Homo sapiens: one gene and its partners. The protein of the gene in region 2 interacts with the protein of the main gene of each other region in a biochemical or structural test. Each region holds a gene or a part of one and is shown on either strand. Other genes may lie near its edges.

What was found.
Region 1: the proteins of IKBKG (region 2) and CYLD form a complex in vitro, tested with the Homo sapiens proteins (3 studies listed by BioGRID, with this or other methods).
Region 3: the proteins of IKBKG (region 2) and BCL10 form a complex in vitro, tested with the Homo sapiens proteins (3 studies listed by BioGRID).
Region 4: the proteins of IKBKG (region 2) and RIPK1 form a complex in vitro, tested with the Homo sapiens proteins (4 studies listed by BioGRID).

The regions. Positions count from the first base shown.
Region 1 is NC_000016.10:50,738,030-50,745,108, reverse strand, and holds the start of CYLD (ubiquitin carboxyl-terminal hydrolase CYLD), read right to left. Parts: upstream 3,024-7,079; 5' UTR 2,985-3,023; intron 2,954-2,984; exon of another isoform or gene 2,893-2,953; intron 2,805-2,892; exon of another isoform or gene 2,732-2,804; intron 2,695-2,731; exon of another isoform or gene 2,447-2,694; intron 2,439-2,446; exon of another isoform or gene 2,362-2,438; intron 2,348-2,361; 5' UTR 2,268-2,347; intron 380-2,267; exon of another isoform or gene 243-379; intron 1-242. UniProt on the Homo sapiens protein: Deubiquitinase that specifically cleaves 'Lys-63'- and linear 'Met-1'-linked polyubiquitin chains and is involved in NF-kappa-B activation and TNF-alpha-induced necroptosis.
Region 2 is NC_000023.11:154,550,596-154,557,619, reverse strand, and holds part of IKBKG (NF-kappa-B essential modulator), read right to left. Parts: intron 5,633-7,024; coding exon of another isoform or gene 5,618-5,632; coding exon 5,431-5,617; intron 1,456-5,430; coding exon 1,244-1,455; intron 1-1,243. UniProt on the Homo sapiens protein: Regulatory subunit of the IKK core complex which phosphorylates inhibitors of NF-kappa-B thus leading to the dissociation of the inhibitor/NF-kappa-B complex and ultimately the degradation of the inhibitor.
Region 3 is NC_000001.11:85,273,624-85,280,875, forward strand, and holds the start of BCL10 (B-cell lymphoma/leukemia 10), read right to left. Parts: upstream 3,010-7,252; 5' UTR 2,730-3,009; coding exon 2,673-2,729; exon of another isoform or gene 2,393-2,672; coding exon of another isoform or gene 2,177-2,392; exon of another isoform or gene 1,543-2,176; coding exon of another isoform or gene 1,540-1,542; intron 1-1,539. UniProt on the Homo sapiens protein: Plays a key role in both adaptive and innate immune signaling by bridging CARD domain-containing proteins to immune activation.
Region 4 is NC_000006.12:3,099,483-3,106,506, reverse strand, and holds part of RIPK1 (receptor-interacting serine/threonine-protein kinase 1), read right to left. Parts: intron 2,283-7,024; coding exon 2,192-2,282; intron 1,086-2,191; exon of another isoform or gene 1,026-1,085; coding exon 456-1,025; exon of another isoform or gene 1-455. UniProt on the Homo sapiens protein: Serine-threonine kinase which is a key regulator of TNF-mediated apoptosis, necroptosis and inflammatory pathways.

The DNA of each region.
Region 1 (7,079 bases), on a different chromosome or scaffold from region 2:
TACTATCTTACTTCAGGCTGGATAACTGTGTGATTATGAATATCTTGGTAATAAATACTGAATGAAAATTACCAACGAGTTGAAACACAATAATATGTTTAACCCTAAAGCCATGTTGAACAGAAGGCCTTTCCTTTAAGGACGCTGATGAAGGAGAACAGTTCAGGTTCACATAGATTTGAAAACATTTCTGGTTATCTGAGCTTGTTGATGGTCTGGATTCTGAGTAAAGGGGAACTTACTTGTATTAAGATGAAGTCATTCAACCAAGACGAGAGTTGGAAGGCACAAATATTTATCAATTTTCCATGAAGACAATGGAAAGATGATCAGGAAATATGTTTTACATGAAAATGTTAAAGATTACAATTACCACATTCTGAAAGGCAACATATAGTACAAATGAACATCAGTAGCTACAGAAAACTAACAATGGTTAACTTATCCAGAAGATGCAGTGTTTTTCTGATTCTCAAGTTATCAGGTTATATTGTTCATAAGGATCTCACAAAGACAGATCCAATTCAAGAGCTTTTTGCATCTCCAAAGATATCCTGCTTGTTCTAAAAACCACAGGAAGCTATTTAAATTAGAATAAAACTTACAATACTTAATTCTGCCCCTAATTATAAATGGCAAAGAGGTAGGAAGGTCAGCTTGAACACCAAAGAAAGAAGACATGTGGGCCTTTTTCCAAAAGCTTCTGGATAGCTAGAATGATCATCCTTTTAAAAGAGAACATCTCTCACTAAAAGACAAAGTTGTTATATTTCTAAACAGCTAAAGAATAGAGATACAGAGATTCCGTGGCCAGAAAAAAGACTGAGTCCGTTTTAATTTTCCTCAATGACTAATTTGTGTCACAAGTACACAGTCCCTAATACAAGTGGGATTTATAAGGTTAAAAAAAAAAAAGAAAAGAAGAGCCTCTCACATCTGCATATTCCCACTGGAACAAGGAATACTGCTGCCTCTCTAGTGTTAAACCTAGCCACTCCACTGCCAAACTGTGAATTCCCCAAGTCCTTCATTTTTATATTATCCAGTGCCCACACGAGAGCCTGGCATATGCTAGGCACTGAATACAGAGAAATGAATGAAAGACTCAAGTGGTAACAGTGAAAACAAAATTGCATTTCCTCCTCCTGTTTAAGGGATTAAACCAAGAGAAAGAGAAGAGAAAAAGACTCAGGAATTGGGAGTATTTAATGAATTTTGCCTAAAACTTCAGTAATTCTCTAGATAAAATGAAATCATGCTAAACCACTTCATTGTTATACATATAAGAAGAAACAAATACGGAAAATTTCACAATTACGAAACCAAGTTGTTTTGAGGTTTATTTGATACTAGCTTCCTACAGCCTCAACTAGCATGTATGATGCTTATAAATTCTGTACAACCAATGAAAAAAAAACTAATTTAAATCATAGTGTGAAAATCAGGAACAAAATACTAATAGTTTGATAAACAACATAACTATTCCTTTCTCTCTCCCTGTGTTGGAGACTTCCTTAAATCAAACAAAACCACAGTTTAGGTGTGCCAGACTATAAAAATCATTGCTGCTTAATGTTAGTTGTGCTTTATATAACAAGCCTTATCTGCTTCTCACAAAAGTTACCACCCAGAGGAAGGTTTATTTGCAAGAATACTATACAATTTTGCAGCAGAATATTAGAGAATGTTCTGGGTGTTACTTCAATAAGAATTTCCAGCAAATCATTTTCTCCTAATACTGTTCTAGTTCAAATCCACCTACTGCTCAGTGGGGAATGGGAGGCTAAATTCTTAAGGCCATTCAGTCTACTTGGGGCGTGAGGGGGTGTGTAGAAAGCCAACAATCAAACGAACACCCTCTCAAGGCCTGGGTGCTTCTCTGAGAGCCAATGATTGCAAAATGAACAATCTTATTAAGATCCCTAATTAGCCCGAATTCAAAAGCAAGGTAGGCATGCTCCTTAGCTGAGCTAAGGATAAAACTTTCCAGGAAAAATTGAGGAGAAGAAGGTGGCAGGGATGATGGGGGCTGGGAGACTGCAAGGCCACAGGCTTGGTGGCTGGAAGATGACAACTATCCTAAAACATTCAAATGCCAAGGGGTGGAAGAGAAACGATGCCAAGTACATGAATAACCGGCAGCTGACCCAGCTGAGTACCAAACTCAACACCATCTCCTGAAGATTTCATGACTTCGCCCCCGCCCCCCATTCGCCCCCCACCCCCCTCGATTGTTAACATGAAAGAAAAACATAAAGAAAGAATACCTGTCACAGCAGGGCGCACCTTTCAACTAAGGAACTCCGGGTGGCTGTGTAGAACCATCCTCACCCTAGAAAGGGGGAAACTGAAAGAAAAAGCAGAACACGCCATTAACAAGGCCAGAACCCCGACTGCCATTCCTGGACGGGAGCCACCAACACCCGCAAAATCGATCGGTACGTACGCCCCGCGGCGCGGTCGGTAGGAATCACAGCCCCGGGCTCCTGAGGCCAACCGTGGCCGTCGGGGCCCGCCAGCGGCCTGTGCCTCAGTCTCCCAATCTGTAAATGGGGTGGGGGGCGGGAGGGGGACAGCGTCCCGCGCGGCTCCCGCCCCAAGTCCTCTCTCCTCTGGGGGTCCCGATGGTGGCGACCCCGCACGCTCCCCGGACTCGCAGCCCTCCCGGGAAGCCTCGGGGGATGGGGAAGCCCCGGTGGGGGGGGGAAACCCGGGCTGACGTCAGCGGGCTCGGCAACCCGCGGGCCCGGCCGGCTCGGGCCCGGGCAACTAACGGGCCGGCGCCGAGGGCCCGATGGTCGCCGCGGCGGCTCCGGACGCCCTGAGGCCAGGCGGCTGCGCCGAGGGGATCCGGCCGCCCGCCGGCCGCCAGCCGCCCGCTCATTCACTAACCTCGGGCGGCGGGGCGTCGCCCCTCGCCCCGGCTCCCCAGCCCGCGTCCCGGGCCGGCCCCGGCTCCCCACACCCACCGCCCTAGTATTTACCTCCGACGCGCGGCCCCCGCGCAGCCAAACCTGCTACCTGGGCCCGCCCCCACCTGCCCCGCCTCCGAACCGCACAGGGAAGAGGGAGGGAGCGGGGGCGGAGGGGGCAGCCGCCGCGCTAGCCAATCGTAGGCCGAGCTGCGCTCCTGAGCGGGCCGTGATTGGGCCTCCCTGTGACAGACCTTCCTCCAATGGCTGCCAGCCCGGCGCCGGCCGAAGGGACTTTCCGCTCTGTCAAGCTCGGTGGAACCAAAGGGAAAGCGAAGGGGCGGGGCAGAGAAGAGCGGCGGATGGAGGCGGGAAGCTCAAGCTGATTGGGCGAAAGGCTGTGGGTGCCGCGTCACCATTGGCTGATGCTGGAGCCGGGGCGGGGCGCTGCGCTGCCACCAGCTCCGCCTCCCGTGCTCCCGCCTCAGCTGTCAAAACTGTAGACGCTTAGGTTTGGGCTGGGTTAAGAGTCCAGATGAAGGTTGAAATAGGATTCCAGGATGCCGTGAGAGAGCAAAGCTTTAGAATCAGACCTCAGTTTGAATCTTTGGCGCTTTCATTCAGTGGCTGCGTGACCTGAGGAAGTCACAACCACGCTGAGCCTCAATGTCCTCATCTGTAAAATGGAGATCATAGTATCGGTTGTCTTACAGGATTGTGGCAAAATACCGAGCTAAAGTTCCTGGCACGCAGTACCAGCTCAGGAAAGGTTCATCTCTTCCTCCTCCGCAGATTCAGCCTGGGACGCTTGCTGTTTCCGAACCTCTGTTGCCACCTATCCCAGTTTGGAGGGAATTTTCCCAAGGATGGTGAAGAAGGGATTTCCACACGCCGCCTCACTCAGCCCCGCACCCCTGGCCACCAGCCAGGACTTAGGGTGTAGTTAAGGATCTTTCAATTAGAAGGGAGGCTTCTGATTCCCAAAAGCACTCAAAATATTTAAGGAAGTGCTTTTTATAATCAGTCCTAGAGCCTTGCTGCACTGGATACTCCTGTTAATTAATTTCTTCTCCTTTGACATTTTAAGTGCTAATTATAGGAGAAGGTGATTAACACTGAGAAAGGAGGAGGGGTGTGTGTGTGTGTGTGTGTGTGTGTGTGTGTGTTTTTAATCATGACACAAATTTCCCCCAGTGGAAAGTGACATGTTTCTGGAGATCCAGGGAATTTAAACCAATGAATACATAAAAACAGTCACATGAGTGATGACTAACAGTAGCAGTAGACAGGCCACCACTCTTCCTTGCCATAGTCATCCAAAATGAAATGAGCATCTTTTGAAAACCTAAGCCTCATTCTACTCCTGTCCCTCTTTTGTCACTCCTATCTTCCTGTTTTCCAGGCTTCATGACCACACTGCTGTAGGAAGCCATAAGTTGGAAATCAACGGGCCTGGCTTGAAGTGTGGCCTTAGGCAACACCGTTCTCATCTACATCTGGATTCTCCAACAAAGCTGGTAGGACTCAGAGGTCACAGTCCAACTGTCTGGAAGAAAATTTCAGCTGAAATTTGTTTTTGCCTAACCCATACGATAAGGAGGAAGGAGAAAAGAATGTGAAGGAGAGAGATTTGGGGTCCTTTTAGGCAAGGCAAACATTCTCATGTTACCACTGGGACCACTTCTCTTATCTGCACGATCTACATCCACTGGTCCCTTAAGGCATCTGAGTTTGCCACTCTGGACTAGAATATTTTCATGTCCCTTCTTTTTGTTTTTGTTGTTGTTGTTGCTGGGGTGTTTGTTTGTTTGTTTCTTTGTTTTGAGACAGAGTCTTGCTCTGTTGCCTAGGCTGGAGTGCAATGGTGCGATCTCAGCTCACTGCAACCTCCGCCTCCCAGGTTCAAGCAATTCTCCTGCCTCAGCCTCCCAAGTAGCTGGGATTACAGGTGCCTGCCACCACACCCAGCTAATTTTTGTATTTTTAGTAGAGACAAGGTTTCACCATATTGACCAGGCTGGTCTCAAACTCCTGACCTCAAGTGATCTGCCTGCGTCAGCCTCCCAAAGTGCTGGGATTACAGGCATGAGCCAATGTGCCCGGCCTATTTTTGTGTCCTTTCTGTTGATGGTGTTTGGTGCTGCTGAGGTCTCTACTTCCATAGGGCTTTCGTCCCCAGGCTCTGTCCTGTCATACGTTCACTGAATCAGTGCCGGGGCCTGACTTCATCTAAGGGATCTTCATCCAAGTCAAGCCTGACAAATGGGGCTTATCTCAATTATCATTTCCTATCAATTGGGAATGGCTGCTTAGAACATTGCGTTAAAGCTAATTCTGAACTTATATTCAGGCTCACCGGGAAGAGAGATATCTGCCAGGGGATAAGATGGGGAGATAGTGTCATGGTGCTATTATTTGCAGTCCTTGGTGAACCAGCCTCTCATTTTACAGGTAGTAGATGAAGGCCCAAAGACAGTAAATTACAAGCCCCTGTCACTCAGGAGATGGGCCGAGACCCTGATTCCAAGCCAAGACTCTTTCCACCTCTGTTAAAATGGATTCCCCAACTGAAATGCTCATCATCTCTGCCTTCCAAATCCTCCCTTCATGGAGGACCTAGTCAAAGTCCTTTACAGACATGTCTTCACAGAGGGCTCCAGCCCTCACTAATGACCTCTCTCAATCCACCACCCCACAGCCTCTTCCATCCAGCCTGGTCCTGGGTTCATGGAACTAGCGGTTGTGTTACTGAGCAGGTTCCAGGAAACATAGCAGTGTACAAGAGAGATGCCACACTCCCTCTGGCAAAAAAAAAAAAAAAAAAAAAGGCAAACTAAAATACTCATTAGATGATCACTTACTTAATTATGGCTGTGGTAAGCCTCAGAAGAAGAATCTCTCTGAGCATGCCTAAAGGGAGGTTGGCCACTCAGGGAAGGCCTGTTTGAGGAAGTCACCTTTGAGATGAGATGGGAAAGATAACTGGCAGGCAGGAGTGAGGGGGAACACTCCAGAAATAGGAAACAGGAAAGTGCATGACCTGTTGAAGAAACTGGAAGAGGCAGAGCGCAGACAATGAAGGCACAAAAGAGCCTTGGGAGCCAAGGACAGGGGTTGTTCTCCATCCCAAGAGCAATGGGAAGTTGTGAAGGGTTTTGCAGGGAACATAACACTGGTTCTTTTTTTGTTTTTTGTTTTTTGTTTGAGATGGGGTCTCACTCTGTTGCCTAGGCTGGAGTACAGTGGCACAATCATAGCTCACTGCAGCCCCCGTCTCCTGGGCTCAAGTGATCCTCCCACCTCAGTCTCCTGAGCAGCTGAGACTACAGGTACGCACCACCATGCCCAGCTAACTTTTCTCTTTTGAGTAGAGATGAGGGTCTCACCATGTTGCCCAGGCTGGTCTTGAACTCCTGGCTTCAAGTGATCCTCCTGCTTTTGCCTCCCAAAGTGCTGGGATTACAGGCATGAGCCACTGTGCCTGACCTAACACTGATTCTAAGCTGTCTTATGTAGTTCTCTCATTGCACACAGCGGGACCCTAACATAAAGCTATTGAATTGAATGGAGCTTTCCCCACGGAGGACGGTGAACTCCAGGTAGCCTGCTAGGGGCATGGGACATAGAGTAACACACCGTCAGGACTCAAGGGAACCTGCTCAGTGGCACCGGTCATGATTATTGACTAGACCCTGCTCCATGCTTCCCAGTGCCTACCACGGGGTACCTCCTACTTGCAGTCTCTCCAAATTTGGTGTCTCTTTTATATCCTACTGCCTTCTCAGCATCTCCACTCAACACAGCCAAAAGCGAACTCCTGATATTCACCACCACCACCCCCTGCAATCCCTCTGCACTCCCCATCTTAGTAAATGGCAACTCCCAGATGTCCATCCAACCTCCCATGGTTCCAGCCATTTTCCCACTAATCCTGTGAATATGGGCATTCAGAATGAACACCAGGCCAAGTGGCTAACTGGACCAGGTATCCGCACAAGCAAGGATACGTCACAGGCGCTTTCTCCACAGTAGCCCAGCACAGTGTTTTGATCCATGGATAACGGGCTGAGGTCTTCCATCTCTGAGATGTGCTTATCTCTTAGGGAAGGGAAATTCCAAGTGCAACTGAACATTCTGTCTGAGGACTTTTACTCTGACCACCTAAAA
Region 2 (7,024 bases):
ACACGGCTGGCCTCGCGGCAAGGACGCTGGCTGCCCCGTCATCTTTCACCTGAGCCTGCACTCGCCCCCTCCCGACTCCCTCCTTCTCCCTTCGCAAGGCCAGGCCGCCTCTGCTGGGGCGGGAACGGAGCTCAGCTCTCTCCCCCGCAAGCAGGGGTTTCTGAAGAAGATCTCTTTTGCCAGCTTGAACAAAGGCCCGCTTTTGTGTACCTTTGTGTATCTCCGGTGTTCTTGTCAAAAGAGGAGGACAGGCACAGAGGCCCGCGGGGACAAGGCCACAGGATGACGGAGATGGAGGCTGGAGAGGTGCAGCCGGCGGCCCCCGGCGCCGTGGAGAGGCCTGGAAGGCAGCTCCCTCGCGGCCCTGGCGGGGAGCCCACCCTGCCGACACCACCGCTAGCTCAGCCTCCAGGCCTCCAGAAGCGGGAGGCCACGCGTTTCTGTGGCTTCGGCCCCGCAGTCTGTGGTGCTTGGTCACGGCAGCTGTAGAAAACTCATCCACTTCCCACACAGGAAATCAACGCCTTAAGCCAGGCGCTCTAAGCCCTGAGTGGAGCGGCGTGCACAGCCCACCATCCACGCCTTTCCCCAGGGGAGTGGAGCCTGGCTGTGGCAAGTGCCAGGTACCCGCCAGCAAGTCTCCTCTCCAGCACTTCTCTCCACCTTGCCCCTCAAAGGGAGCACGGCCCCTTCCTGACTACCATCGCCAGGATCCTGCGATCAGCCAAGCCCACACACAAAGACCCTGAAACCAGGCGGTCTGTGCTAATGACACGATTTATGGGGGGAGCCTTGGGCCACACAGCTGGACCTCTGGTGGCTACAGCCGAGTGACCAGGGTTGGCCACGCAGGCGCTCGGTGCCCACGCGGCCCACCCCCCGTGAAAACCCCGGCCGCCACGGCTGGGGTGAGCTTCCCGGTTGTGACTCCGTGCTCGCTGTCCCACACTGTTGCCGAAAGAAACAGGTGCCGTCTGCACAACTCCCCTGGGCGAGGAGCCGCTGAAGCTCACGCCTGGTCTCTCCTGGAGCCCGCCCTGTGCGCCCTGAGCCTTCGCTCACCGTAACCTGTGTCCTTTCCTTGTAATAAACCGGAACTGGGAGTGTGACGGCTTTTCTGAGTTCCGAGCCCTCCCGGCACAGCACTGAGCCCCAGGGTGCTTTGGGGGACCCCGACCACGGGTTCCCTTGTGGAACACTGGCGTCACCGCGGGTTTTCAGAACCTGGCCCTGCCCCGACTACCTGCTGGCATCTCTTCAGGTGCTCCACCTCCCGCAGAGCCTGCTCCTTCTGCCTCTTCAGATCGAGCTTCTCCAGGCCGAGTCTCTCCACCAGTTTCCTGGCCTCCTGGAACTTGCACATGAGGAACTCCTTCTCCTCCCTCTGGCTGGCTTGGAAATGCAGAAGCTCCTCGCAGCGCTCCCGCAGAATCTGGTTGCTCTGCCGGATGGCATCTGGTGGCAGAGGGGACAGTGGAGGGGAGCTGGGCAGCCCGGCCTGCCGGGCCCTGCCTGGGCCCACATGGGCCTGAGGCTCAGGAAGTCAGAGGCCAGAAGTGGGGCCACCCATCCTGGTGCCCCCACCCGCCATAATACCACGCAGCTTCTCTCAGGGGTGGATGGCGTCTCAACACTCCCTTTTGTTTCTTTAAACACTTCCAAAATCCTTTACACTAATGCCCCTCACTTTCTGCAAGAAAATAACACCAAACACATCAGCTTCACTTAAAAGTACGTGTTGGCCAGGCACTGTGGCTCATGCCTGTAATCCCAGCACTTTGGGAGGCCAAGGTGGGTGGATCACCTGAGGTCAGGAGCTCCAGACCAGCTTGGCCAACATGGTGAAACCCCGTCTCTAATAAAAATACAAAAATTAGCCCGGTGTGGTGGCACACGCCTGTAATCCCAGCTACTTGGGAGGCTAAGGCAGGAGAAGCACTTGAACCTGGGAGGTGGAGGTTGCAGTGAGCCGAGATCACACCATTGCACTCCAGCCTGGGGGACAGAGCAAAACTCTGTCTCAAAAAAAAGAAAAAAAGTATGTGTTAAATGCCACTTTTTTGAATTTTTATTTTTGTAGAGACAAGGTCTTGCTATGTTGCCCAGGCTGGTCTCACATCGTTGGCCTCAAGCAATCCTCCCACCTCGGCCTCCGAAAGTGCTGGGATTATAGGCATGGGCCACTGTGCCTGGCCTTATGCCACTTTGTTTGTAAGTGACTCGAATTCATTTGTATTCTGGTCAGTCTGAGGTGTGCCTGCCCTCAGATGCTCGGTATTGGTCCTCCCTGGCCTACATCTCTGCTGTCTTCTAGATCGGGGGTCCTAACACGCCTGCAGACTCCTAGGGTCAGCCTCCCAGGCAAACTTCACTGCAGCATTGCTGGCTGCAGCCTGAGAGGCCCAAAAGGCTTGGACCAGGCAAGTTAGTGGCGTCTCTGAGCCTCAAAGTCCTCATCTGCATAGTGAACAGAGACAAGAACATTCATCTTACAAGACGAGGAGGGTTAAACGAGGAAGCAGAAAACAAACGGGAAAAACCGCTGGTCCTCCCCTCACCAGAGCATGTGTGCCAGTGCCAGGCAGTCAGCAGAGGCCACAGGAAGGAGAGCCCCACACCCAGGAGACACCCCAAGTAGTGAAGAAGCCATCTGAGGTGACAAAACTGATAAGTGATGTGCCAAGGTTCTAGCAACTCTATAGCAACTACAGAGCTGGATAAAATGGGGCAGGCAGTAGCTACCCCGTGATCAAAACCCTCAACCAACTAACTATTGCCTGCTGACGAGCGCAACATCCACCCCCCATCAGAATCCCGCTTGCTCTGCCCAAAGCTCAGCTCATCTGCAACTTGTCTTTTTTTTTGAGACAGACTCTCGCTCTGTCGCCCAGGCTGGAGTGCAGTGGCGCGATCTCAGCTCACTGCAACCTCCACCTCCTGGGTTCAAGCAATTCTCCCTGCCTCAGCCTCCCAAGTAGCTGGGATTATAGGTGCCCGCCACCACGTCTGTAGCTAATTTTTGTAGTAGAGATGGGGTTTCACCATGTTGGCCAAGCTGGTCTCAAACTCCTGACCTCAGGTGATCCCCCCGCCTGGGCCTCCCAAAGTGCTCGGATTACAGGCATGAGCCACTGCACCTGGCTGGCAACTTGTCTTTTAAAAAATGTTCTGAACTGAGGTAAAATTCACATGACATCAAATTCACTATTTTAACTAATTCAGCAGTTTTCGGTGTATCCATCAGGTTGTGCAACCATCCGCACTATCTAATTCCAGAACAGTTCCGGGACCCCATAAGCAGTCGCTCCCCCAGCACCCTCCTCATCTGCATCTGCCTCTGCAGATTGGCCACTTCTGGACATGTCTCACACTAGTGGAGTCACACACTAGAGACATGCAACTTCTTCGTGAATCTCTCCCTCAACATTCTAAGTACAGCCTCCTCCATGGACATAAGCATGTACATCTTGGGGGACAGACATCTTCTGGGCCCTTAGGGGCTTGGCCCAGGGCCTGACACATGGAGCTACCAAGTTTCACCTGCCACCCACAAAGCTCAGGTCAGGCGGAGCAGGGGGAGTCAATACAGCCTTGAGGCCTCCTTGTGTCCCTGGAGCCCGAGGGAAGCTGCTGCACTGAACACACAGCCTGGAAGGGAAGCAAGGGCGCCATACGCTGTGCCAGGGTCCCTGCACAGCTGGCCTGCAACACTCACCCTCAAGTCCCCCTCAATAGAGCACTCTCCTGGGGATGAGCAGAAGCCCCCAGTCTAACTGTCACCTCTCTGTGCACCAGTGCTTTGAAGATCCCAATACAGTGGGTCTCACCAGGGACAACTGTATCCCCCAGGGGTCATTTGGCAATAAATATCTGGGGATATTGTTAGTTGTCACAACAGGACAGGTGCTACTGGCATCTAGCAGGTACAGGCCAGGGACTCTGCTCCACACCCTACAACGTACAAGAGAATTCTCCAGCCCCAGGTGCCGATGGCACTGAGGTGGGGGACCCTGTCCTGGAACAGGCAGGTCATGTTGGGTCTCCATGCTCCAGCAGGGCCTCTCCAATTCAGCCTCACCGTCGAGGAGACCAAGCAGCCCCCTGACAGCAAGCTGACTGCACTGACCCCTTCCTCCATGGAAGGAAAGGTGATTTGCCTTGACAGTAAGAGGAGACACATCGCAGGCATGGGTCTTGTCTCTGCCCACGGGGTGTCAGCCAGAGCCACTCTCTGAAGCCTACAGACTATGTGACTTGTCAGCACAGAGCCCCACATAACATCTCGGACCACAGTCCAGCAAAGAAGGCGGGGGAGTGGGCCCATGACAGCGATCTCTAGTAGTCACGGCACATGCCACCTCGCCCAGGAGCTGCCAGCCAGCCAGGACACGGAGAGCCAATTGAAGCTGCCAGCTCAGGGATGACTCCTGCAAGGAAGGGGTGTTGTCCTCCACGATGGGGTGGACACTTAGGCCTGAGTCCCCAGCAGGAACCAAAGGATGAAACAAAAAGGGCTACAGGCCCCACCACACCCAGTGAGCCATGTGGGGAGTCTATGCCGCCCCTCCCTGCAGCTCTGGGACCCGAGGCTTAGAAGGCCCCCGCAGCAGAAAGGCAAGAGTATATGGCGGGTGCCACCTGGCCCCGCCAGGCTAACCCAGGGCAATGCAGAGCAGTGGCAGGGAGAGGGGGTGAGGGGGAAGAATGGCAGGGGCTGGGGGTGCCATCACGCCCAGGGCGCGGGCAGGAGCGTGCAGCTGAGCCCTGAACCCATGACGACCTGGAGCTGAGCAGCAAGAGGGTGAGGGGCGCCCGGATGGCAGTCTAGGAAAGAACTCCCCAGTCCCAGCCACTGGGTGTGGGAAGTCAGCCTTCACCTCCGCTGAGGTGTGCGCCGGGATTGCCCCAGAGGAATGTTGCCTGTGGGGGCCACGCACCTTCCTTCCCAAGACAGACCACGCCCCTCTACCAGGGCATGCCCCGCCCATTTCCAGGACAGGCCCCACCCCCTCTCTGGGCAGACCACGCCTCTTCCCAGCGCCGACTCTGCCCTGTCCCAGGATGGACAGCACTTCATGAGTGCTCAGTGCAGGGACACAGAGGCCTGGACATGTTGGTCCAACCTGGAAGGTTCATTCCAGCTCCAGAGCTCCCTGTAAGATCCAGCAAGGCTGTCCTGGAGCCTACCCGGCAGCGTGCTTCTCCCTCTGCCCTCCCTGGCTTCTTCCCCTGTCCCTCCTTTCCCTTCCCAGTACTGGTCCTGAGAGCATGCTAAACTTCCTCCCCGCTAATCTGCATCTCAGAGTCTACTTCCTGAAACCAAGAGGGAGGGCAGCACATCCCCACCCCAGGCCCAGGAAACGCAGAGGTGCAGGTGGGGAGAAGACGCCTTCCCCTCAGCAGGGCTGGATCCCCTGACTCTTTCCTCACCTCGGAGCTCTTGATTCTCCTCCAGGCAGCGCTGGAGGGTCTCAGGAGCGCCCTGTTCTGAAGGCAGGTGCAGCATGGCTGGCTTCCCCAGAGGAGACTCTTCGCCCAGTACGTCCTGATCTGCTGCCGGGCCACCACTGGGCTGCACCATCTCACACAGTTGGCTCTTCCAGAGGTGCCTATTCATCCAACAGGGCAAGGGCTGAAAGAGAAAGGCAGCAGGGGAGTCACAGGAGACCCACATCCTTACCCAGCAGAAAAAGCCTATGAGTTCTGGGGCTACATTTTAAACAGAATGCTGATAATTCACCTAGTGTATCAGGATGCTAAAGTGGGTTTTCAGTCTAAGGGGTAGCAGATACTCCCATTCCAAAGGGAGGTGCTGGACCACCCATGTGGGACTTGAAAAGGCCTAGCTCCAGGCTGGAAATAGAAGAATTTCACCAGAGATGGGAGAGTCGGGACAAGACTGTTTGTGGAGGGAGATGTCAGTATGCTGGGAATCCTGATCCCCTACACACCTCCAAGCAGGAGAAGTGGAGGGTACCGGCCCCTCATCCAGTGTAGTGGGCTGAATGGTAGCCCCCCGAAAAGATATGCCCATGTTCTAACCCCTGAAACATATGTGATTCGGGAAAAGGGTCTTTGCAGATGTAGGATCTCAAGATGAGATCATTCTGGGTGACGTGGGTGGGCCCTAAATCCAACAACGTGTCTTTATGAGAGACAGAAGAGAGAAGCCAGAGGGAGACGCAAGGGGAGGAGGCCATGTCGGGACTGCCTCGGAGACTGGAGTGAGGCAGCCACAAGCCCAGGAATAAATGGGGCAGAAGCTTGGGAGAGGCAAGGGAGGATTGCCCTCTTAGAGCCTTTGAGGGTGTGTGCTTGCTAACCCTTTGGTTTTGGACTTCTAGTCTCCAGAACTGTGAGATTAAAATGTCTGGCCGGGCGCAGTGGCTCACACCTGTAATCCCAGCACTTTGGGAGGCCGAGGCGGGCCAATCATGAGGTCAGGAGATCGAGACCAGCCTGGCTAACACGGTGAAACCCTGCCTCTACTAAAAAAAAAAAAAAAAATTGCCGGTCACGGTGGCTCACGCCTGTAATCCCAGCACTTTGGGAGGCCGACACGGGTGGATCATGAGGTCAGGAGATTGAGACCATCCTGGCTAACACAGTGAAACCCTGTCTCTACTAAAAATACAAAAAATTAGCCAGGCATGGTAGCGGGCGCCTGTAGCCCCAGCTACCCAGGAGGCTGAGGCAGGAGAATGGCGTGAACCCGGGAGGCAGGAGAATGGCGTGAACCCGGGATCGCGCCACTGCACTCCAGCCTGGGCAACAGAGCGAGACTCCATCTCAAAAAAAAAAAATACAAAAAATTAGCAGAGTGTGGTGACACGCGCCTGTAGTCCCAGCTACTCGGGAGGCCGAAGCAAGAGAATCGCTTGAACCCAGGAGGCGGACGTTGCAGTGAGCTGAGATTGTGCCACTGCACTCCACCCTTGGCTTTCAGAACAGCCCCTTCTCCTGGTTTCCTCCCTATCTTGCTGGCTACTCCTGCCCAGGCACTCTCACTGGGTTCCCATCCTTC
Region 3 (7,252 bases), on a different chromosome or scaffold from region 2:
TTACATCCTCTTCCTCAACTCCCATGTTCAATCCATCACCAGGTCATATCATTTCTATTTCAAAAACTGCATCTGGAATTCTGCTCCATTCATCTCCACTGCCTTCACCCTGATCCAAATCACCATCCTCATTCATCTCTATAGATTCCAAGAGCCTGCTCACTGGCTTCCCTGTTCTTATTCTTGTTCTCCTCAGTCCATGAAACAGGCAGAGGGATCTTTAAACTATACAATTCTTCAACAAGTCCCTACTATACTTGGGGGGAAAAAAACCCCAGATACTTTACTAAAAGGCTCTTCATGAAAATGGCTCTAGCCCACCTTCCTAACTTCACTTCAGATTACCCTCTGCCTTCCTCCGATTTCCCCAAGTCACCAGGGTCTTGCCTATTTTAGGTCCTTGACAAATTCTATTCTGCCCAGAATGCTCTTCCCTCAGTTCTGTCAAATCTTTCAGGAATCAGTTTAAATATAACCTCTCCTGACCATCCTATCTCAAGTCGATTTCCCCTATTATTGTCTTGGCACTGTTTGATTCCTTCATAGTAATTGCAATAATGAAAACAAAATTTATTTATTTGTTTTAAACTAACGTCTCTGTTTGAAGCAGGCAGCTACGAGGTATGTTTTAGCCAACACTGTATATCCTGCACTTACTAGGGCACCAAGTAGTTAATGTTTCAGTTGAATGCAAAACTCACTGCACTTATTTTGTGATTTAAAACAATCCCCCTCAAGAAATTGAGCTCTTTTCAAGTTAGGATTGTGTTTTCATTTTTAATTTTTGAACTGTTAGAACCAACCACAGTATCAGCCTCACAGTAGCATGTAATCCATATTTATTAAACTGTACTAAATCCAACTAACACAATGAGGCAAATAACTAGATAGGAGGAGGGGGAGACACTAAAGAAGTGGGAGGTCCCAAGACAAAGGGTGGTAGCACACCATTCATCAAGAAAGGCAATACAGCAGCAACAGTAAGCAACTTTGGGAAAAGGATAGTAAAAGTTCAATATTTGACAAGGTGAGCAATCTGTAGGATATAAAAGTAGATTTCCAGTAGACATTTGGAAATAAGGACCTAGAGTGGAGAGAAAAGTCCAAATATGTGGATAATTTTAAAACTCTCTAAGATCAGAAGACATTTTGAAAATATCATGAAAAAAACCTCTAAGAAAAAAGCATGCACATAGTTTCTTTCATAGACCTTTTGAAACCCATCCATGGTTTCCTCAAGGTTATTTATTTCTGATATAGGCGTAAAATGAAATCCTGAAGACAGATAACATCAATGAATTGACAGAGAAGAACAAAGACCTGGAAGCCACTCTTCACATCTGTACTTGTATACAGATCTTATTTCCTTCCACTTGTAATTTCTCAGTTCCTGTTTTATTAGCTGTAAAATGGGAATGGCAATTATCTTCTTTAGAGGTTGTTGCGAAGGTTAAGTGGGAACATTGTAAACTGTGTGACACAGCATCTGGAACATAGGAGGCCTAGCTCTTGGAAGTTCAAGGTTTTACTGGCACTCACCATGAATAAGACAACATTTATTCTACAGTAGTTATTTATGTTCCATTCTTATCTCAACTAGAATGTAAAGCAGGAAACTGATCTTCATTTTTTTGTATCCTTCCAGACCCAAGGCCAGTGCTTTCCATATAGCAAGTGCTCCATAAATCTCTGTTGAATGAGGAAACTAAGCACAACTCCCAGTCATATCCAGTTTCCTTCTGCTGGTGAGTCACACCAATTGTGAGTACAGTGTAATAAACCTTACAGGGAAGAGGAAGGGATTTGAAGTGGATGAACATTTAAAAAGTTGCCATCCTGTCCAGTTCATCAAAATGACTTTGTAAAAGTACTGCAGTGTTCAATAAGAACACGTTTCATGTTGAGTTTCTGTTTTTCATTTGACTTCAGATAAAGTATTTTAGTGATACTCATATAGGTCTCATCTGACAAAACAAGTAAACGCAAAGGAAAAAGAATGTCATATCTCAACAAAGCCATTCGTTACGAATAAATATGAAGGTTTATGTGGTTCTGCACCATCCGAGAAGAGCATAATTTAGCTACTGAATATTTTCGACGTTTACCTGTACATTAATTCTCAGCTACGTGTATTCACTCCCCCAACCCCAATTTAAATATGTGGGCGTCTGCTTACTAGGGGAATTCCAGGTTGTGCTTTCAGCTGTTGAGCTTCCTCAAGCCCCCTTATGCAAAAGAGCTTCACATTTTTGGTCCACTGCTTGGGATCCTTCACCTGGTACAGCCTTCGCTCTAGGCTGAGTGAGCAGCCTAGGCAGCCTGACTTAAGGATGAATCTGAGCCGCCAGTCCCTAACGAAGCATCTCCAAGAACCCAGTTGGGGGGAAAGCATGAGGAGATGGGTGAGGAGTGGGCAAGAATCAAAACACCACTTGGCAACAAAGCCCAAGCTCTGCGTTTAGCGATGTAAAACCTGGATTGACAGATCACTGGAGGATCACTGCCACCAAGGTCCCTCGGATGCAGGGCTCGCCACAGTCCTCCTGTGCTAGGACTTTCCGCTCCTCCGACCTGGAGGATCCTCCTTGTCCTCGGACTCCAGGCTTCCGCTTTCGTCTCCCGCTGGGCTGCAGCCCGCCCCCGCCCGCCCTGGGCACAGCTGCGTTACTCACGTCCTTCTTCACTTCAGTGAGGTCCTCCTCGGTGAGGGACGGTGCGGTGGGCTCCATGGTGGAGGCGGGAGATGGCGCTTCTTCCGGGTCCGGGAGCTCGGGCTGCGCCGCCCCGCCCTGGCTGGGGGCTTCGGCCTCCGGGTAATGGGGAAGAAGGAGAGGAGGCGGAGCGGGTCGGGAGAAAGACGGCCGCCCCTTCGGGAACAGAGGGACTCGGGGGTCAAACCGTAGCGCTTCCGGCCCCGCCTCTGAGGTCGACGGCGACGCGAATCTACGCGACGCGACGCGGAGCTCGGAGCAGCGTTCCTTCCCTCTCGTAGAGGCTCAGGCGCAGGCACCGCCCCACGGCGAGGCGCGTCGCTTAGCAGAGCCCGCCCTGTCTCTGCGGCAGCCTATCGACGCCAGCCCGCGGGCCGATCCTGTTCCCGCCCCCGACCGGAGCCTTTCGGGTGGCTCCGCCCACAGCGGGCGTTTCCTCAAGCCACGCCTGCGCAGGTCGTCGGTAAGTGGCCCGGGTTAGCTTCCTCATAAGGCATCGTTTCCGTGGGTGGGGTCCGTCAGTGCCCAGGCAGCTGGCACTCTCAGCCTTTGCTGCCTGCTCACTTCGGGGGAGTCCGGTCTGGGCTTGTCAGTACCTTGGGTTCCTCCCCTTTTCCCAGACCCTGCCCTACAATTTCCTGTTGTTACGTTTGCCAGTTACTGTTTTGGTCACACACAAACGCACTCATACACACATACACATGCATACACACAAACAGCCTAACTACAATACTAAACAAATTTTTGAAAGAAAAAAAGAAACCACCTACAATCCCACCACTTTAACACCTCATTTAACGTTTGCATACTTTTTGGTCACTGTTCATTATAAACATAGCTTTTCCTCATTAGTTAATCTGTGTAATGGAGATAGATATGCTTACCTTTTAGGGCTGCCGGGATCATATGTAAAGTTCTTAAAGGTAGTTGGGCACACAGTATGCACTCAACTGATTATTTATTTATTTATTGAGACAGGATCTCACTCTGTCGCCCAGGCTGGAGTGCAGTGGTGCGATTCTCGGCTCACTGCAGCTTCCACCTCCAGGGCTCAGGCGATCCTTCCACCTCAGCCACCAAGCAGCTGGGAGTCCAGCTAGTTTTTTTGTATTTTTTATAGAGATGGAGTTTCGCCATGTTGCCCAGGCTGGTCTCAAACTCCTGGGCTCAAGCCATCCACCCGCCTCGGCTTCCCAAAGTGCAGGGACTACAGGCATGAGCCACCCAGCTCATCCTACTCAAACATTTATTGAGTCCTTACTAATATGTTCTAGGCAACTTATACTATGAGTCCTCCATTTTATAGGGGGAGACTGATGAAGAGACGACTATCCCCAGACCGTATTTTAACTACTATGGCGCTGTGTAAGAAGCAACCTGAGAAGTGTGGATGAAAAGCTACAGGTAGAGCCCTGGGCCCAAGACGGTGGCTTGGACAACATGCTAAATAAACTATAAACTAGATGGTATTTGAAGCTACGAGAGTAGATAAAAATGACAGGAGGACCAAGGAGAAACTTGGGAACGCCAATGTTTAAGAAACGGGAAAGCAAAAAAAAAAAAAAACACACACAAAAAAACAATGTAACCAGAGCCACAAAAACCAGAATCACAGCAAGGGATTCTGATGTTTACATTATGTCCTGTTTCCATGTTGACACATTACACAAGGACAGTTTTTTTCTAATTGCTTAATTTTTCATCATCTTCCATCCGATTTACTGAACCATCCTTAACTTTAGGATGAATCCTTTCATTTAACAAATGTGTTTTGAATGTCCACTATGTGCCAGACACTGTTCTAGGTGCTAGGAAAACAGCTGTGAACAAAACCAATAAAAATCTCTTTCCTCATGGAATTTATATTCTAGTTTATTTGTGTTTGGGGCAGACGAGGTAGGCACTTGAAAAATTTTATCTAAGTTTATTTATTTATTTATTTGGAGACAGAATCTCGCTCTGTCACGCAGGCTGGAGTGCAGTGGCACGATCTCTGCTCACTGCAACCTCCTCCTCCCAGGTTCAAGTGATTCTCCTGCCTCAGCCTCCCCAGTAGCTGGGATTACAGGCGCATGCCACCACACCCGGCTATATCTAAGTTATTTTAAAAAAATAATTAATTAATTTATTTTTTTGAGACGGAGTCTCACTCTGTTTCCCAGGCTGGAGTGCAATGGCACCATCTCAGCTTACTGCAACTTCTGCCTCCCGGGTTCGAGCGATTCTCCTGCTTCAGCCTCCTGAGTAGCTGGGACTACAGGCACACACCACCACGCCCAGCTAATTTTTGTACTTTTAGTAGAGACAAGGTTTCACCACATTGGCCAGGTTGGTTTCGAACTCCTGACCTCAGGTGATCTGCCCACCTCAACCTCCCAAAGTGCTGGGATTACAGGCATGATCCCCCACGCCTGGCTATATCTAAGTTATTTAATTTATTAGAAGATGATAAATACTAAGAGGAAAAAATAAAACAGGGAAGTAGGATGAGGCTGTATGGATTGGTAAAATTTAAGCTAGGGTGGTCATGACCTCCCTGCTCACTTTGGAGGAGTCTGTCCTTGTCTTGTCAATACCAAGATAAGGGATTTGATTTATGCTTAAAGGAAGTGAGGGAGTGAACCGTGTGGATATAAGGAGAGAGCATTATGAGTACAGTCAGCAACCAATAAAAATGCTCAGTGTAACTGGAAGGAGATGATCTCCTTGTGTGTTGAGTCATATGGGTGTGCTGAGTCAGACGGGAAGCCACTGGAAGGTTCTGAGCAGAGTGACATGATCTGATTTGTGATTTGAAAAGAAGCACTTTCACTTCTGTGCTAAGGGGAAAGAAGATGGAAGAGGGAAAACCATTTAGGGAGGTATTGCTATATCCAGGCCCCAGGAGGTTGTGGTTCAGACCAGGGTGGAGCAGTGAGGGTGGTGGGAGCATTTTGAAATGAAGCAAGGAAGCAGTTTGATTTCATTTTGAAAGGATCACTCTGGCTGCTAAGTGGAGAGTAGATGGCAGGGGCAAGGGCAAGAAGCAGAGACTACGTGGAGGCTACCACAATGTCAGGTTCACGACTGAGCCAAATGTCATGCTTGGGGTCAGGTTCTAGCCCATGCTGAGGTCCAAGGGGAGTGGGTGGATGAGCAGAAAGAACACTCAGGGGACCGTAGGCAGGTAAAAGATGATTTTACTCAGCAGCAGCTCTCATCAACAGCTTTCTTACACTAGCTCTCTACACTGTCTGCCCTGTCTCAGGTGCTTAGTCTGGCGGCTCCCCCACACAGCTGCATGGCCGACTCTCCCTTGCCTTCGGGGTCAGCAGCTTAACTCTTCCTCTCTCTGGGCATGAGCAAGCCGAGCTGTGTCCTGGCTCCCCACTGTCAGTCTCCAAGAGGGTCAACTCTGGCTCTCTCTCTCTCTCTCTGGGTGTCAGCACGCCTGCACGATGTCAACAGGGCAATTATACCTTTTACAGACAATAGTGGCTTAGAGCCAAGGGATGGCCTTCCCATGTTATGGCTACATAGCTGTGATAACAAGTGGAGTTATATGCCTGCGCTCTAAACTCGCTGAGTCCCTGTGGATGTTTACCTCGTCCTATCCTTGACCAAAGCACAGCCATGTTCCTTACACACAGCCATCCAGGCACAGCTTAGGATGGCTTGACCAGGGTGGGGGCAGTGGTGAGCACTCCCCACTGACACCTTAAATCCTTCCCAAGTGTTCATTGTTATTAAAAAATTGTCATAGAATTTACATATTTTCATCCTTTTTCCTTTCAAATTATCATTGCCTTTGCATAAATTCCCAGAACCAGGAGTACAAAGCCCAAGGAAATGAATATTTTATGGCTTTTCTTATATATGGGTGCTCTCCAAAAGGGCTGTGTTGGTCTATCTGTGTGTGGGAATGAACTGTTTTTACCACAGTCAAATCAGTTCTGCTGATGAAGGGGAGGATTCACCCATCAAAGCAAGTGAATTGAATGCTGCCAATTTAATGCACTCATTTTGATTTGGCCATTTTGAGATTGCTACTGCACTGTTGTTCTTTTTAAAGGAAACATTTTAAACCCACCAAACTATAAAGAATATTACAAACACCCTACGCTCACTACCAAGATTGAGCAGATACTGATATATTGCCACATTTGCTTGTCATGGCTTTTGATTACCAAATGTTAGTGGCAGACATCTTTGATTCTTGAACATTCTTCCATGCCCTATACATCTGAGTCTTTCTCTTTCCTTGACCATCATTTCATTTCTGACACCTCCAACCCTTTTCTATCCTCAGTATTCATTCCCTTATTTATTTAGTCAACTAAAAAGTTAAGTGTCTGCCCTATGTTAGAATTGGGAGTTACAGAATAAGGATCAGGGATTGGGCGGGACTGAATGAGGATTCCGGGAGTTTTTTTATAGCTGAAAGAGTAATATTTTGCTTTTCAGACCATGTGTCAATGTTCCCAAGATGAATTGCCTAGCTTAAAAAGCCACATCTGAATACCACGTGCTTAATCACAGAGCTCGTTTGTGGCAGGCTTTGC
Region 4 (7,024 bases), on a different chromosome or scaffold from region 2:
CCTGATAGAGATATGGGAGTTAAAAGAAAATTTTTCATCACTAATGGTAGTCTTTGAGCTATATAAGGTCAGAAACAAAAATATCCAAGACTGATTTCTTACCTTCAAAAAGTAGCAAGCAAGGTAAAAGCAAATAAGCAGATAACTTCCCATTTATCAGAGATTGGGTGAAATAGGACTACTATGCACTCCAGGTTAGAGTCAAAGATGCCTGCCAGTCACAAGGACCTGTAACCCGATGCTTGCGGGCATCTGTGATGAATCCTAGCCCCAGATGAAATACTCCCAGACCAAGTGGTTTGGCAGGGTCCATTCCACAGGGGCAATTTGCATCTGGCAGCTGATGATGCCCTCTGTCCCCATTATAACCCACAATCTATAATAGAGCTGCTTGGTTGCTGTATTTTCTGAAAAATAAAAAAAGACAAGCTTGTGACTATCGAAGACCCATTTACCTGTTGGTGGCAAGGAGCTGAATGGCATGGTGGGTGTATTTCCTAGATAGTTGGTCTCAGGCACTGGGATATTATGCAGACTAGGCATATGACTTGGAATTGGCCTGTACCAAACTCTGGGACCTGCTGTTCCTGGATCCAGTGGTCTTGTTCCAAAGCCATGTGAGCTATATAATCCATTGTTCTGATACAGTACTTGAGGTTGGCTGGTGAGCCCTGAGGGCTGGTGCACTGCATTACCATGACTGGCTGCACTGGAATAAGCAGTGCCTTTTCCCTCTGTATTCTGAAAATTCTCGTAAGGTCTTTGCTGTGCAAAAGGGTCATGGGAGACCCTGCGTCTCCTTTCCTCCTCTCTGTTGTAAGCCACATTCTGTCTGGGCTGCTGTTTCGTCTGCCTGTCCATGCGGCTGCCATAAAGATGGTAGTTGGCTTCGTCTTGGAGTTTACTCTGCAGGCTGGGCTCATTCTCTTCTTGTGGGTGCTCCAGGGAAGGAGCAAACCAGGACTCCTCCACAGGACCCATCCCAAGTCCCTGGGAACTGTGCAGTGAACCAGGCTGTTCTGTGGCTGAGAAGAAATGATCAACATTAGAATGGGTGTCATGAAACATTAAAAAGTAAAATAAAATCTGAGCGCCGTCATGAATCTGTATCTCAAAGTAACACACAGAAAACAAGTACGAGACCAGTCCAAAGCATTTAGGAGATGGTCCTCTTCCCACAAGCTTTACAAATAATAATAGGAGCTCCTCGCTGGCAGTAAGAGAGTACTAGGAAAATTATAGCAAGCAAGAGAAAAGCGGCTGTTGCAGGGATGATCAAGGAAAAAAGGGACTTGGTTTGGAGCAGAGAAGGTGGTTGTCTCCTTGGAGCAATTCAGGTGGAAAATAAGATCTGTGGCTGGGTGCGGTGGCTCACGCCTGTAATCCTAGCACGTTGGGAGGCTGAGGCGGACGGATCACCTGAGGTCAGGAGTTCGAGACCAGCCTGGCCAACATGGCGAAACCCCATCTCTACTGAAAATACAAAAATTAGCCGGGCATGGTGGTGCATGCCTGTAATCCCTGCTGCTTGGGAGGCTGAGGCAGAAGAATCGCTTGAACCTGAAAGGCGGAGGTTGTAGTGAGCCAAGATCACACTACTGCACTCCAGCCGGGGTGACAGACTCTGTCTCCAAAAAAAAAAGATCTGCAGCAGCTCTGTCCTAAGCATGTCCCATGAATTCTTTCATTCTTGAAGAGCCCTATGAGAGGAGGAGCAATTATGATTTGATGAGTGAAGTTTAGAAGAGGTTAAGTAATTAGCCACAGATCAGGTAGCTAAGCGGCTTCAGTATCCTATACTCTGCCATCCCTTTTGTTACAGTGAAAAAAGTATCCCTACTTGACCTGAGACCAGCCTCTCTGCTTGTACCCTGGCTGTAAGTCACTCCGAGCTCCTCAGGGACTTTGCTCTCACATATGTCCCCTTCCTTCTTCTGAACTGTCACTTCTCCCCATCAGATATATTAGGCCTTTTGTTCAGAACACTCTATGACTGGTGAGCACACTGTTACTTCATATTTCAAATACATGTAACTTGACTCTCGAATATTATTATAAATTCCTGTAAGGCAGGTGTTCACTTTTATAGTTTCTTCTGTTTCCCATATGGTCCTGAATAGTCTTTTAGAGAGTGGAGTGAATGAGTAACCAAACAAATAAATGAATAGATTTTGACCATAGTGTAATTTACCTGAATTTGACCGGCTTGAAGGTACTGCCACACAATCAAGTTGAAGAGACTGCATTCTCTTCACAACTGCATTTTCGTTTGAATACTCTTTCTATAATTAAGAGCATAAATACACACTTTAGTGAACAGCAGGAAATAGAGTCCCAGAAAATTTTAACGAGAAGAATTCATATTTTCAGAAGGTAGAAATTTCACACAGATCTTACAAGTAGTAATTTTTTAAAATTAATGTTTTTCCCAAATAGCCAAAATGATCTTTAAAAAGAACAAGGTTGTAGGACTCACACTTCCTGATTTCAAAACTTACTACAAAGCTACAGTATTCAAAACAGCGTAGGACTGGCATAAAGACAGGCACATATGCCAGTGGGGCAGAATGGAAAGCCTAGGAATAAACCCTCCTATAAATGGCCAATTGATTTTTGACAAGGTTGCCAAGAGCATTCGATGGGGGAAAACTGAATATACACATATGAAATAATGAAGTTGGACCCTTATTTCATACCATATAAAAATTAACTCACAATGGATCAAAGACTTAATTTAAGGGCTAGTGCCACAAAAATTCTTAGAAGAAAACACAGGGAAAAAGCTTCATGACATTGGACTTGGCAGCGATTTCTTGGTTATGACACAAAAGCACAAACAAAAGTAAAGAGTAAAAATAATACATCAGAATTAAAAGCTTCTGTGCATCAAAGGATACTATGAAAAGAGTAAAAAGATAACCTACAGAATAAGGAAAAAATACTTTGGGAGGCCAAGGCAGGTGGATCCCATGAGGTCAGGAGTTCGAGACCTGCCAGGCCAACATGGTGAAACCTTGTCTCTACTAAAAATACAAAAACTAACCAGGCATGATGGTGTGTGCCTGTAGTCCTAGCTACTCGGGAGGCTGAGGCAGGAGTTATCTCTTGAACCTGGGAGGCAGAGGTTGCAGTGAACCAACATTCTGCCACTGCACTCCAGTCTGGGTGGCGACAGAGCAAGATTCTGTCTCCAAAAAAAAAATAAATAAATAAAATAAAATAATGGGGAAAAAGTTGCAAACAATATATATCTGAAAACGGATGAAATCCAGAACATAAAAAAAAAAAATCCTACAACTCAACAACAAAAAACAAACAACCCAATTCAAAAATGGGCAAAGAACTTGAATAGCAGTTTCTCCATAGAAGATATACAAATGGCCAATAAGCCATGAAGATGCTCAACATCATGAGTCATAGGGAAATGCAAGTCAAAACCACCATGAGGTACACTTTCACACTCCTTAGAGTGACTATAATATAAAAATGGTAAATAAAAAGTGTTGGTAAGATGGTGGAGAAATTAGAATCCTTGTGCATTGCTGGTGGGGAATATAAAATGGTGTAGCTACCATGTAAAACAATTTTAACAGTACTTAAAAGTTAAACATGGCCGGGCATGGGAGCTCACGCCTGTAATCCCAGCACTTTGGGACCTCAGATCACCTGAGGTTAGGAGTTTGAGACCAGCCTGGACAACATGGTGAAACCACCCCATCTCTACTAAAAATACAAAAAACTAGCCGGGCGTGGTGGTGTATGCCTGTAATCCCAGCTACTCGGGAAGGTGAGGCAGGAGAATCGCTTGAACCCGGGAGGCGGAGGTTGCAGTGAGCCGAGATGGTGCCACTGCATTCCAGCCTGGGCAACAGAGGGAGACTCTGTCTCAGAAAAACAAAAAGTTATACATAGAATTACCATATGATCTAGCAATTCCACACCCGGATATATATACCCCAAAGAACTGAAGGCAGGAACTCAAAATATGGTGCAGGTGTAGTATCCCTTATCCAAAATGCTTGGGATTAGAAGTGTTTTGGATTTTGGATTGTTTCCAATTTGGGAATATTTGCATGTACAGAATGACAGATCGTGGGGAGAGGACCTAAGTCTAAACATGAAGTTTATTTGTGTTTCATATGCACCTTATACACATAGCCTGAAGGTCACTTTATACCATATTTTAATAATTTTGTGCATGAAACAAAGTTTGAGGATACTGAACTATCAGAAAGCAGAGGTGTCAGGTGTGGTATTTTCCACTTGTGGCATCATGCTGGCACTCAAAACGTTTCAGATTTTGGAGGATTTTGAATTTTGGATTTTGGGTTTAGGGATGTTCAACCTGTATATCCATATGATGGAATGTTATTCAGCCATAAAAGGGAATGAAATTCTGATACATGCTATGAAACAGATGAACCTTGAAAACATTATGCTAAGTGAAATATGCCAGACTCCAAAGGAAATACATTGTGTGATCCTTTTGCTAGGAGCTACCTAGAATTCAGAGACAGAAAACAGAATAGAAGCTACCAGGGGCTGGGAGAGGGAGGAATGGGGAGTTACCGTTTAGCAGGTACAGAGTTTCAGTTTGGGATGATAAAAAAGTTCTAGATATAGATAGTGGTAATGGCCGCACAACATTATGAATGTACTTAATGCCACTGGATTGTTCACTTAAAAATGGTTAAAATAGAGAATTTTATGTTAAGTATATTTTGCCACAGTAAAAAACTTTTTCCTTATAGGAGCAATAATCCTCATTATAGAAAACATAGAAAATTATATATTCTTAAAACCTATCCATAGTTTTGCCCTACACCCAAAGATAAAATGTTAACACTTTGGTATTTTTCCTTCAAGTTTTTTTTTTCCTAGTTTTATTTGTATTTTGCTGTTAACGATTGTCTGCTATATAAATAAGTGGTCAAAAATACTAGCTAAATGAATACATGCATGATCTAGGGGAGAATGACAGAGGGTATTAATTATGTTCACACTTTGTAGCATTCTATATATTGTTTTTGTCTCTTTGCATGTTTATTTTTAGAGATCAAATCTGCCTCTGTCGCCCAGGCAGGAGTGCAGTGGCATGGTCATAGCTCACTGAAACCTCCAACTCCTGGGCTCAAGCAATCCTCCCAGCTTGTCCTCCCAAAGAGCTGGGATTACAGGCATGAGCCACCTCACCCAGCTGTATGTTTATTGTTTTTAATTAACATGAAAAGGGTTTTTTGTTGTTTTTTTTCTTGAGACAGAGTCTCACTGTGTCCTCCAGGCTAGAGTGCAGGCTCAACCTCCAGGCTCAAGAGAGCCTGCCACCTCAGCCTCCTGTGTAGCTGGGACAACAGGCATGCGCCACCACGCTTGGCTAATTTTTGTGTTTTTTGTAGAGATCGGTTTTTGCCATGTTGCTGGTTTTGAACTGGCCTCAAGAAATCCACCCACCTCAGCCTCCCAAAGTGCTGAGATTACAGGCACGAGCCACCCTGCTTAGCCTAATATGAAAAGTATTTTTGTTATTTTAATTTTATCAAATTGATTTTCTTTTTATAGTTATTTTTATTACACAAATATGTTAAGTACAAAGTCCTTTTGAAAGATTCAAACAGGCCAGACATGGTGGCTCACGCCTGTAATCCCAGCACTCTAGGAGGCCGAGGCGAGCAGATCGCTTGAGGTCAGGAGTTCAAGACCAGCCTGGCCAACATGGTGAAACCCCATCTCTACTAAAAGTACAAAAAAATTAGCTGGGTGTGGTGGTACACGCCTGTAATCCCAGCTACTCGGGAGGCTGAGGCACGAGAATCACTTGAACCCGGGAGGTGGAGGTTGTAGTGAGCCCAGATTGTGTCACTGCACTCCAGCCTGGGTGACAGAGTAAGACCGTCTCAAAAAGAAAACCAAAAAAACCCCCAAAGATTCAAACAATGCAGAATCACATAGAATAACATCCAAACATTCCTTCAGCACCTACTCTTCCATTCTCTAGAGGTAAGCCTTATCCAGAGTGTGATGCATATCACTCTTATTCTCTCTCTAGGAATTTGCACACACATTCCAGAAATATATATATATTTGAGACACAGTTTCACTCTGTTGCCCAGGATGGAGTGTAGTGGCACAATCTTGGCTCACTGCAACCTCCACCTCCCGGGTTCAAGCAATTCTCATGCCTCAGCCTCCTGAGTAGCTGGGATTATGGACATGCACCACCATACCTGGCCAGTTTTTTTTGTATTATTAGTAGAGACGGGGTTTTACCATGTTGGCCAGCTGGTCTCCAACTCCTCACCTCAAGTGATCTGTACAACTCCGCCTCCCATAGTGCTGGAATTACAGGCATGAGCCACTGCACCAGGCCAAAATATATATATCTTTAACATTAAAAGGACCACACTGTAAGTATTGTTTTGTGACTTATTTTTTTCACTAACAGCTAATCTTGAAGATCTTTCTATATCATTACATGTTAGTTTCCACCTCTTTCTTTTAAATGGCTATTAGTATTCTGTAGTTTAGATGAATCATAATTTAGGGCAGTTACTTATGGACATTTGAGTTGTTTCTAATTTTTCACTCTTATAAACTAAGGTGCAAAGAATGGAAACTACATCTTTGAGTGCACGTGAGCAGTATAGATTACTGAGAGTAGAACTGCAGCCAAACTTATGGGCTTGTGGAGTTTGTTGGGTGCCTCACCTTCTAATAAACTTCGCCACTCTTACCAACACTGCAGAAGACTGCTTGTTATTCTGCATTTTCACCAACACACTGTATCACTAATCTTTCAAAAATTTCAATCTAATGGATGAAAAATTGTAACGGGTTCATTTTGCCTTTCTCTGTTGGCGAGGCCAAATATCTTTTCTGAAGTATGTTGTTCAGTTTCTTTTTTGAATTGTCTATGTTCTTTGTCTATTATTTTTCTTTTATTTTGGTTTTTTTGTTTGTTTTTTTGAGACGGAGTCTCACTTTGTCACCCAGGCTGGAGTGCAGTGGCTCCATCTCGGCTCACTGC